2 separate regions of the Homo sapiens genome follow, and region 1 is linked to region 2. Evidence: fine-mapped expression QTL. A gene starts in region 2. The other region holds a variant in brackets. All regions are shown on one strand. Distances are between the middles of the regions.

Region 1 (5,374 bases), 74 kb after region 2:
AAGGCAAGGGTGGGTGTGTGACAAGGCCCTATCTATACCTTAACCCAGGCCTGCCGCTTTTCCCAGCACAGTGGTTCAGGTGTGGACTCTGGAGATAAAGGGCCTGGGTTCAAATCTTGGCCTAATCACTAGCAGGTGTGGTCGACCACTCTGCGGCCCTCTTCCTTCGCTTATAAAATGGGAATGATTTGGTATCAACCTCACGGAATTGTGGTGAGCACTAAAGAGACGATGCCAGTCAAATGGTGGCTGTGGCTGGAGGGTGAGTATGAGGGCTTTTTCTGGAGTGCTGGCGGTATTCTGCTTTTTGATCTGGGTGCTAATTTCACAGGCGTGCTTGGGGTGTGAACATTCATTGAGCTGCACAATTATGATATGCACACTTTTCTGAAAGTATGTTATACTTCAATGACAAGTTTTGAAAGCCTTAGTCCGATGCCTCTTGTTGAGCTCTGCTAACAACAATGAATGTTATTAATTGTCAGGGTCCTACGGCCATGCTCCCGAGAGATGCTGCACCAGAATCTTCCGAGTCCAGGAGCTTGCTGCTCTCTGGAGCCCTGGAAGGGCAGATTATATTGGGGAAACTGAGGCATTGAGACCCAGAGGCTCAAGGTCATGGGGCTCAGTAGGAGCCAAGTCACCCAGAGCCCAGCAGCACCCTCCCCTTTTACCTCCCTCCTGCCGGCAGCTAGCAGGGGTGTGGGGGCCCATTAAATCCTAGGCAAATGGGCTCTGGGCGCGTGCAGCCCTCAGGTCCCAGGACAGCTCAAACAGGACTGGACTGCCTGGTGCCCCATGGCAGCCGCCCCCTGGCCTCTAAATGATGGTGTGGAGCACTTGGCTGTTTGCAGGGTAAACAGGAGGGCTGGAGCAATGGGAGGCAGGTGTGCTCCACTGCCAAAGCAAAACAGAGCCAGTGCAGGGTTCCCGCACACCCTGGGGGGCCGCTGAGGGCCAGCGGTTGCTATCAGGGTGAACACCAGTTGTCAGTAGAAAAGGAGGCTTTGCTTCATCCACCTCCAGCAAGTTCTTGCACAGTTCATCCTGGCAGCCTCTGGCCTGAGTGAGATAGCAGGGTAAGGTTAACCCTCACCTCCCCAGCACAGAAAGGACTGCAGAAAGCCCCGAGAGCCTCAGGCTGCCTCCACCTCTGTCTCTGCAGTGCCTGGTACAGTTCTTGGCTTCCTGACCAGGAGGCAGCATGGGGAGATAAATACACACAAAGCCAGAATGCGTGGGTTCAAGTCCCGGCTCTCCTGTTCACATTTGTATGACCTGGGGCCAGCTATCTAAACTCATTCCTAATTGCAGCTGCTGTGAATATTGAACACCCAATAACTTAAATAGCTAAACAGCTCAAGTAGGTGAGTCTTGTCTTAGCCAGTTCCCAGTGAATGTCATAATGTGGGCCTAACACTGCCAGATTTGTAGATTTCTCTGGAGACACACAAAACCTAGATTCCTATGTACAATCTCCTGATTTGTAAATGTTGGCAGCTAACCAGAAAACACCCCGTGGCCTATAAAAAACAAGTCTGGCAATTGGGTTTGACCAGTGGCCCTAGTTGTGGACCACAGATCTAATCACATCCTCAGCTCGTTAATGAGAAGACTGAGGACCAGGAAGGAAAAGTGATTTGCCCAACCTGGCACAGTACTGACTGCCAAGACACCAAAACACGCATTGTGGGTTAGGGCATCATGTATGTACACAGCAACTCCTCAAGGTAGGTTGTATAATCCCCACGAAAACTCAGAGGGGTCGAGCAATTTGCCAAAGGTCACCCATTGGCAAGTTCCCAGCCTGGATTCAAATTCCAGGATAAGTCACACTGTCTCCTTAGCACTGAAAAAACTGGAACCCACACCTGTTTCCTGCCCCGTGAGGATGGCACTGCTGTCATGAGACCCACTGTGCCACATCATGGAGAGCAGCCACTGCTCCTGCCTGCTCACCTGAACTGTCTCCCAAATGCCCAGAGAGGACACCTTAACCCTTGCAAGACAAGAAAGAGTGTCGGGCTGTCTTTCTTAGAAAAGTCTTTATTATTAAGCAATATATAAATATTTTGTCATTATAAAAAAATCAAGTGACAGAAAAGATAAAGAGTTTGTCTCTAATTCCACTCCCTTCTTAGGTGCAATACTATTATTAGTGGTAATGCCACCTCCTTATAGACCCCCCACATCTTTTTTTTTTGCAGTTCTGCTCTTGTTGCCAAGGCTGGAGTGCAATGGCACAATCTTGACTCACTGCAGCCTCCACCTCCCAGGTTCAAGCGATGCTCCCGCCTCAGCCTCCAAAGTAGCTGGGATTATAGAGGCTTCCACCACCACACCTGGCTGATGTTTTTTTTTTTTTGTTTTTTTTTTTTTTGGTATTTTTAGTAGAGATGGGGTTTTACCATGTTGGCCAGGCTGGTCTCGAACTCCTGGCCTCAGGTGATCCGCCCACCTCAGCCCCCCAAAGTGCTGGGATTACAGGCATGAGCCACCGTGAGTGGCCCTTATGGACCCTTCCTTTGGAAAGCTCTCAAAGTTGCCCCAGGAGCTGGCTGAGGGCCTGGGCCGGTCTGAGACACAGGGCGGCTGAGCCGGCCATCACTGGGCAAGACAAGCCCTCTGGCCAAGAGCATTTCCCAAGAAGCCAATGACCATAGAAGGCCTTCAAGAGGTTG[C/T]GAGAGCTGCGTAGATAACACCCGAGGATCAGGAAGTAAGAAGTCCCAAGGCGGTGCTTCCCATTGCGGCTAGGTCAGAACCACCAGCCCCAGGCAGAGGGAGGTGTCTCTAGTTCTTTCTCAGGCCTTCAGGTAGTATCAAGCTGAAAAGTCTTGAGAGCTGCTAGGATGTCTCAATGCCTCTGCAACTCTTGCTCTCTCATTTTAACAAGCAGAGGGCAGGCCTGCTAAGTCATAGCACTTCTGCAAGCCGCAATGCCTAGCTATAATTGAGTGGCTTTGTTCTGTTTTTATCATCTTCATTTTACAGTAGCCTTCTATTTATGGCCATGCTGGTTGTCCATTTATAACCAGTGATAGAGATTTCCTCTTAGAAATAAAGTTTGAGGGTTTTTTCGGTTTAAATTAAAATAGTAAATAAATAATGTTTCAGGTGATAGACAGAAATGACAACAATCATTCTGTTGGGAAGGAGATGGCTGGATTCTGGCACACGCTGTCTTAGATAGATGAGACGGCCTTCTTTTTTTTTTTTTTTTTTTTTTTGGACCGAGTCTCACTCTGTCGCCCAGGCTAGAGTGCAGTGGCGTGATCTCATCTCACTGCCAGCTCCGCCACCCGGGTTCACGCCATTCTTCTGCCTCAGCCTCCTGAGTAGCTGGGACCACAGGCGCCTGCCACCATGACCAGCTAATTTTTTGTATTGAGGATGGCCTTCTTAACAAAGCCCTGAAAGAGGTTGTCCAGCCACCCTGGAGGCACGCGGCGTCAGGCCTGAACTGCACAGTGGCTGGATTTACGAGGAATGAGCAGCAGTAAGCCCAGGAGAATGTGAAACCAAAATGCCCTGTGATGACCCAGACAAGACCAGAGTCACTCCTGGAATCTCCATAAAGTCGGTCAGGGCAAACTCGAGGACACAGAGTGAGTCTCTCAGCCTCCCTCTTCATGGATCTGTTGTTTCTCAGCAAGACCTGGGGACTGACATCAGTCTGGTGTAGTGCAAAGAGCCCTGGACCAGAGTTCCAAGGCCTCAGTTCCAGGGTCAGGGCTGTTGTAATGAACAGCTCTGTCCTCCTGGGGGTTGAAAGGGCAGGTGGTACAGTTAAGACTGTGTGCGTTCAAAATCCTTCTCTTCACTTTCTGAGTTTGTTTCTTTCCTCAAATTACTTACCTTCTTGTGCCTCAATTTCCTCATTTATAAAATGGGAATAATAATGGTTCCCATCCTTGGGTCCTTGTAAGGATTAATTAAAATAAATCATTTGAAGTACTCAGCAGAGGGTCAGCAAGGAACAAAGCTAAGACTCAATGGATATGAGCTGTCATCACTACGTTTATGATGATCATGAGTGTTTTACTAAACAGAAGTCTGCTCATATCAGGGGACTTTGAAACCTTTCTACTCTGTCTTGATGCTCCAAGATTCCTATATTCGCATCCAGCTCAGCTTTTGGCTATGGAACCTTAGGCAAGATGTTCATAAACCCTTTAATCTCTAGTGCCCTTGTTCATAAAAAGAAGTGAATCGGATCCCTGCAGGACTGTTTTTGTATTCAGTGCACAGGTGTGTGTGAAGACACCCAGCATGTTGCCAGGCACACAGAGATGTCTACCTTGATACTTTTCTCTCCTCCTCCCCGCAAATACACACACACACACACACACACACACACACACACACTCACACACTCTTATTTTGATCTCGGCCTGAGGCTGACAAGCCCCAGATTAGTGATCAGTGACAATTTCGGCTTTATCAGCTCCACTCAGGGGTATTTGCATATTGGTAGAGAATCTGGAACAGGAAAACACCTCCTGTCTCAAAAGAGTGAATTGCAAATGGTAGGATTATCAGATTTCATTCATTTACTCATTTCATTCACTGAGGACTTGTTTGTGAAGTGGCCTTCTAACAACTTCATTTCATTACAAAAAAAAATGATGTATGTGTTTAGAAAAAAGTGAACAATTCAGAGACAAAAAATACATTCAATAGACCCTTTTTTTTTTCTTTTTGAGACAGAGTCTCGCTCTGTTGCCCAGCCTGGAGTGCGGTGGCACAATCTTGGCTCACCGCAAGCTCCGCCTCCCGGGTTCATGCCATTCTCCTACTTCAGCCTCCCAAGTAGCTGGGACTACAGGCGCCCGCCACCACGCCCGGCTAATTTTTTGTGTTTTTAGTAGATACGGGGTTTCACTGTGTTAGCCAGGATGGTCTTGATCTCCTGACCTCGTGATCTGCCCGCCTCAGCCTCCCAAAGTGCTAGGATTACAGGTGTGAGCCACCGCGCCCGGTCTCAATAGACTCTTAAACCTCCTTTCTCCCATTCATCTCTTCCTTTTGTGCCCACTCAGAGATGCAAGGTTGACACTTGGTGTGAATCACTCCGTACTTCTCTTTAGGGTCATGGAAACATGTATGTCCACACATAGGAGAGAAGGGGACAAAAGGTGGTTTGCTTTTTCCAAAAAAATCACACTAAATATATATTTATTTGTATACTTTTTCACTGAATGCATCATGCCCATCTCTCCAGATCAATTTTAAAAACCTCATTATTTTTCATAACTGCTTAGTCCAATACAGTAGAGTGCCATAGTGTATTCAGCTTATTCAGTCTCTCCCTTATTGAGGCATATTAGTCTTGGGGAGATTTTCCAGTTCCCTCTTGACAAATACAATCAATGCA
Region 2 (5,374 bases):
TCTCTGATCTACTGGGGGAAAGGAACTAGGGTCCACATGCAGCTAGGGAGACCCAGTTCAGCATTCCTCAGAAAATGCCGCTAAAGCAGGAGACGCCAAAGTGGGGCAGAGTGGGTCCTGACCCAGCCATGAACTTGTGTGACTCTGGGCCCTCTCTGATTGTCATCTGTAAATGTAGAGTCTGGTTATAGAATCGGTGTCTACGCTGAATATTTCTCCCTCTGTTTTTGCATCATAATCCCTGTCACATCCCTGCTGCATGCTGCATGCGATTAACTCTCAGTGTAGCAAACATAGGTGTGCTTGATTGTACACAGCAAATGTATACTGACTATAATCTATAATAACTAATATTTATTGAGTGAGCCTGTATGTGCCATGTGAAATGATTGACATTGATTACACTGACTACCTCACTGAATGCTCACTGCAACTTCGTGAGTTAAGTACTGGCATCGTTCCCTTTTTCACCAGAAAACACTGAGGCTGAGAAAAGCTAGATCACTTGTCAGGGCCTGCAGTGATCCCAAGGTTGGGATTTGCAATACCAAGGTTGGGATTTGCAGCCAGGTCCTCCTGATCTCAGAGCCTGTGTTTGCTACGTCTCTGCTATATTATCTGTTTTTAGCCTTTCAAATTTAACCCCAAAAGCAAGTCACCTGTGTGCTTGCCTTTCTCTAATCATTTAAATCAGAAACTACGGAAAAACAACAACAAAAATTGCATCCAATTCTTCATCCAGAAATAATAATTGGCAGTTTGATATTTATGTTTCTAGATTTCATATACAATTATAAATACATATTTGTACTAAAAAAAAATCTCATGGCATTTTGCAACCTGTTTCTCCAAATAATATCATGAGAACATAAACATCTTTTCATATCATTAGTTATTTTTCCAGAATCTATTTTTCATAGTTGCATAATATTACATCATTTGGATGATACACTATTTAGCCAATCCCCTACTGTTGGGCATTTAGATTAGTTACAATTTTTCACCGCTATAAACAATGCTGTGGTGGGCATCCCTGTGGCTAATTCTTTGCTCTGTTGAATTTTGTAAGATAAGCTTTGAGAAGTGAAATTGCTAGGTTAATTGTAAGGCTTTGAGTCTGTACTAGGGGACTCCAATGTGACTGCTCTTTGAAAAGTCAGGGCTCCACCTTCAGCAAGCCAGGCCTCCTCATAGAGAAACTGTACCAAACAAAAATTCTGCCTCTGGCTTGGCTCTGCAAAGTGTGCCTTACTCTAAGCCTCATCTGGACAGCCAGAGCCTTTCAGAGAGTCACATTTCATCACTGTTTTATGGTGGGGACAGGTTCCTCTGGGCCTAACATGACCACTCCTACCCAGTTACCTGGAACTCATCCTCTGGGCACCAATATGCTGAAAATGAAGTTTATTCAGTCTCATTCATGTTTGCCACATGTGTCCCCACATAACCATGAAAGAGGAGCAGAGAGGGGAAGAATTCTTTGGGGAGCATCCTCTCCAGTTGGGACAGTCAGTGACCTCTTTCTCTTGCCTCAAAGAAAGTAGGGCATGCAGGAAGTGGGAGGAAGCTGGATGGGAAGAAGAAGGAGGCAAGCGGGAGCGAGGTGGTGACCAGAGGGGCTGACCCCAACTTTTCTCCCATCTGCTTCATCACAGAGAGAAGTCTCAGCTGCTACCAGAACCTGGTCAGGGGCCAGCGCCTACCCTCTGAGTAGGGAGACCACCACCCATGGCCCAAGCTGAGGGCCTGACCTGGGGCACCAGGGGAGGCTGGGACAAGATGGAGGATGGAGCCCAGATAGGAGAGGAGCTGGCTGAGCCACAGGGAGAAGCCAGCAGGGGCTGCAGCTCCTGCTTCTGGAGCCTGAGGGAGAGAGAGAGAGGACGCCTGGGGCATGGTGAGTCGGGCGCTCTCCTCGTGCCCTGGCTGCCTCCATGCCAGGGGCCTCTGCGAGCTGAAACATGAAAGGTCTTTGGATCAGAGAGGAGCTGGGAGCCTGCTTGCCCTGCAGCTGGAAAGAAACTTGAATTGTTCAAGTTCTCTCACTTTTCCCTGAAGACTGATTCCCCATTTTCCCCTTTTGCTATTATTTTTAAGAGCCTTGCTGCTCTCCAGGCAAATTCTCAGGTTCTCTGCCCGTCTGCAGCATGTATGCATATGCGTGTGTGTGTGCGTGCGTGTGTGCGCGTGCGTGCGTGGGCGTGTGCGCGTGTGTGGGCGTGCGCGTGTGCGTGTGCGCGTGTGTGCGTGTGCGCGTACGCGTGTGTGCGTGTATGTGTGTGTTGGGGGAGGCTGCGGTGCCTATGACTGGTTGCCCCCTTGAACCCCACCAGAAGCCAGCCCAGGCCCCTCTGCGCCCTCTTCTGAGTCTCCAGGGCCGGTTCTCTCCTGGCAACTCCAGAAAGTGCCTCCTCACCTCAAAAGACCAAGAAACAGGGTTTCTGATAAAGTGTCCCACCCAGTCCCGGCTGGGGCAGTTGGTTAGAGAATGAGGGGACATTGGGGGGAAGAGGAGGGAGAATGAGGGGATGGGAAGAGAGGCGCAGAGAAAATGAGAGGTGGAGAGAAAGGGACAGAGTGAAAGAGAAGGAGAAAGGGGAGAAGCCGGGAAGACAATGAGAATGGAAGCGAGAGATGGAAGTGGAAAGAAGAACTGGAAGCCTAGAGACAGAGGGAGAGAGGGAGAGAGGGAGGGGGAGAGAGAGAGAGAGAGAGAGAGAACGGGAATGAGCAGCTGTGATGTGGCCAGATCAGTTCATAGAAAAGAAACACAGTTCAGAGCAGAAGGGAGGAAAGAAAATAAGAAGGAAAGAAACAGAGAATGAGATGCAGAGAGGAGAGGAGGGAGAGAGAGAAGGAAACCGAGGTGGGTAGAAAAATGTGACGAAAGGGAAGGACAGAAAAAAAAATGAGAGAAGTAAGACAGAATAAAGGAGAAAAAGAAGAAGGGAATCATGAGGATGGTGAGAAAAGACAGGAGAGAAAGCCGGGAGAGAGGATAGAGGGGCGTTCTCGCTGCGCTGCGTGTCAGCTCTGGTAAGCCGTCTAGCATGTCATTAGTGGGGACCTGAGGCGCCAGCGGGAAAGTCCCCTCCCCGTGGGCTGGAGGCTGAGGGAGGGCGGGCCCTGGGCTGGGATCCACAGGCAGGTGGCCGCCCCTGGGTGGGGCCGCCCGGCCAAGCCCTAGGGGTATAAGTGGGAGGCCGGGCCTGCTGAGCACCTGTCAGGGGCAGCTCCGGGGTGCAGGTGCCAGGCAGGTGGCTCCGGCCAGCCCAGCCCCAGCATGAGCTCCTTCGACCTGCCGGCGCCCTCCCCACCTCGCTGCAGCCCCCAGTTCCCCAGCATCGGCCAGGAGCCCCCCGAGATGAACCTCTACTATGAGAACTTCTTCCACCCACAGGGCGTGCCCAGCCCTCAGCGGCCCTCCTTCGAGGGGGGCGGCGAGTATGGGGCCACCCCCAACCCCTACCTCTGGTTCAACGGGCCCACCATGACCCCGCCACCCTACCTGCCCGGCCCCAACGCCAGCCCCTTCCTGCCCCAGGCCTATGGAGTGCAGAGGCCGCTGCTGCCCAGCGTGTCGGGGCTTGGGGGGAGCGACCTGGGCTGGCTGCCCATCCCCTCGCAGGAGGAGCTGATGAAGCTGGTGCGGCCACCCTATTCCTACTCGGCTCTCATCGCCATGGCCATCCACGGGGCACCCGACAAGCGCCTCACTCTCAGCCAGATCTACCAGTACGTGGCCGACAACTTCCCCTTCTACAACAAGAGCAAGGCCGGCTGGCAGAACTCCATCCGCCACAACCTGTCGCTCAACGACTGCTTCAAGAAGGTGCCCCGCGACGAGGACGACCCGGGTAAGGAGGCTTTGAGTGTGGGGGGTGTCCCCAAGGAAGACTCACTTCCTTCCTCCCCAAGACCCCATTCTAGAAAGTTCTGACTAGGGCTGTGCCCCCCAAGACTGGGGGATGCTACCAGGCAGGACAGAGGGGAGCTCAGCAGTGAAGGAGAGCATGGGCCTGGGGGAAGATTTGGGTTTCAGCCCTGGCTGTGCTCCTGCCCAGTCAGTGACCTCTGGCAGGTTAGACCTCAGAGCCTCAGTTCCCTCATCGGAAAACCAGGGATAGTGACAGCATCTGCTTTGCAGGCTGCAGTGGAGGTGATGAGATAATGTACACAAGGTTTTAGGTGTTATCAAGCGCTTAATCGCCTGCAGTAATTACGATTCATCTGCATCTCCAGCACCCAGCACATAGAAAGTCTTTGGTGAATGAATGACTGGACCAACCAAAGCCCAAGGGCATCCCAAGACTGCCAGGAAGAGGATCTGACCTGGGTTAAACAGCCACTAATGGCCCATTTTGCTGCCTGCCTTGTTTCTACTTAGGTAACCTCCTTTAACCCGAAGACACCCCTGCAGGGTAGCTCTTATGAAACCCATTCTACAGATTAGGAAAATAACACTCAGAGGTGACACAGAATGAAGTGATAGTGATGGAGCTTGAATTTGAACTCAGTTTTCTCTAACATCAGAAATTGTGAGCTTTTCCTTTTCAACGATGCATTTCTAAAACTCAGAGACCTGCAGAGAGGCATGTATTAAATACTCATGCATCCATTTCCCAGAATTAAAGTCCACTTTTGTTCCACCGCAGGAAGCCAAGGTATAGCTCAAAGGAACCCCAACTCTGCCCCATTTGAGGGTGGCAAACACCAGGCCTGTTTGTCCCCAGAAGAGGGCAAGTGTCCTGTCCAAGGACTGCCATCACCCTCAGGCTGAGAGACGGTAGCAGGAAGAGTTCAGGCCTTCCCTCGGGAAGGTACCTCCCAGCTGCAACGCTCCTTTCCATATCCGGTGTGGATCCTTTCTCAGTGGGCCTGAGGAAGACAGGGGCAATGGGCCCACTTTTCAGACTAGAAAACAGGTTCTTCCAAAGCCCCTCAGTCAGTGAGGAGCAAAGCCAGGACTCAAGTCTGTCTTCAGACTCCAAGCCTACGGCTATTAGGGAGTCCCAGAGTTTTCCTGAGTCTTCTTTTCCTTCAGCATTGAAAGCCCTCCAACCCCCAACCCCCAAATCCCTCAGCATCCCTGCTCCCAGTTCTTCATCCTTCTTAAAGAGACCTACATTGCAAACTCCTTAATGCTCATGCCTCTCGGCTGCAGTCCCAAAGGGCCCTGTCATGGGCTGCTTAATTAAAGATGGAGGTGGTGTGGTTCATCAGTTGATGGAATTCCTCCATTTCTCAGTCCCTGCCTGTCGGTCTCTGTCTTCCTGCATCTGTCACCTTGGCTTTTAGTTTATGACAATAAGGAGGAACAGAAGCAAAGCATTTTGTCCACCTCTCTATTTACCCCCTTTCACTTTTGTATCAG

The links. PIP is the estimated chance that this variant, and not a neighbour inherited with it, causes the effect. A credible set is the group of variants that fine-mapping cannot tell apart.
Region 1: its variant is the best candidate, but not a certain one, in a credible set for the expression of FOXI1 in whole blood (TOPMed, PIP 0.58).

Annotation. Positions count from the first base shown.
Region 1 is chr5:170,176,295-170,181,668 of GRCh38, forward strand. No RefSeq gene overlaps it. Among named protein-coding and RNA genes, the nearest start is that of LINC01187, 20 kb to the right of the region's middle. The variant C/T (reference allele first, on the strand shown) is at 2,682.
Region 2 is chr5:170,102,675-170,108,048 of GRCh38, forward strand. FOXI1 (forkhead box I1) reads left to right here and starts at 3,223. Exons shown (of 2, transcript NM_012188.5): 1 at 3,223-3,857. The coding sequence starts at 3,284.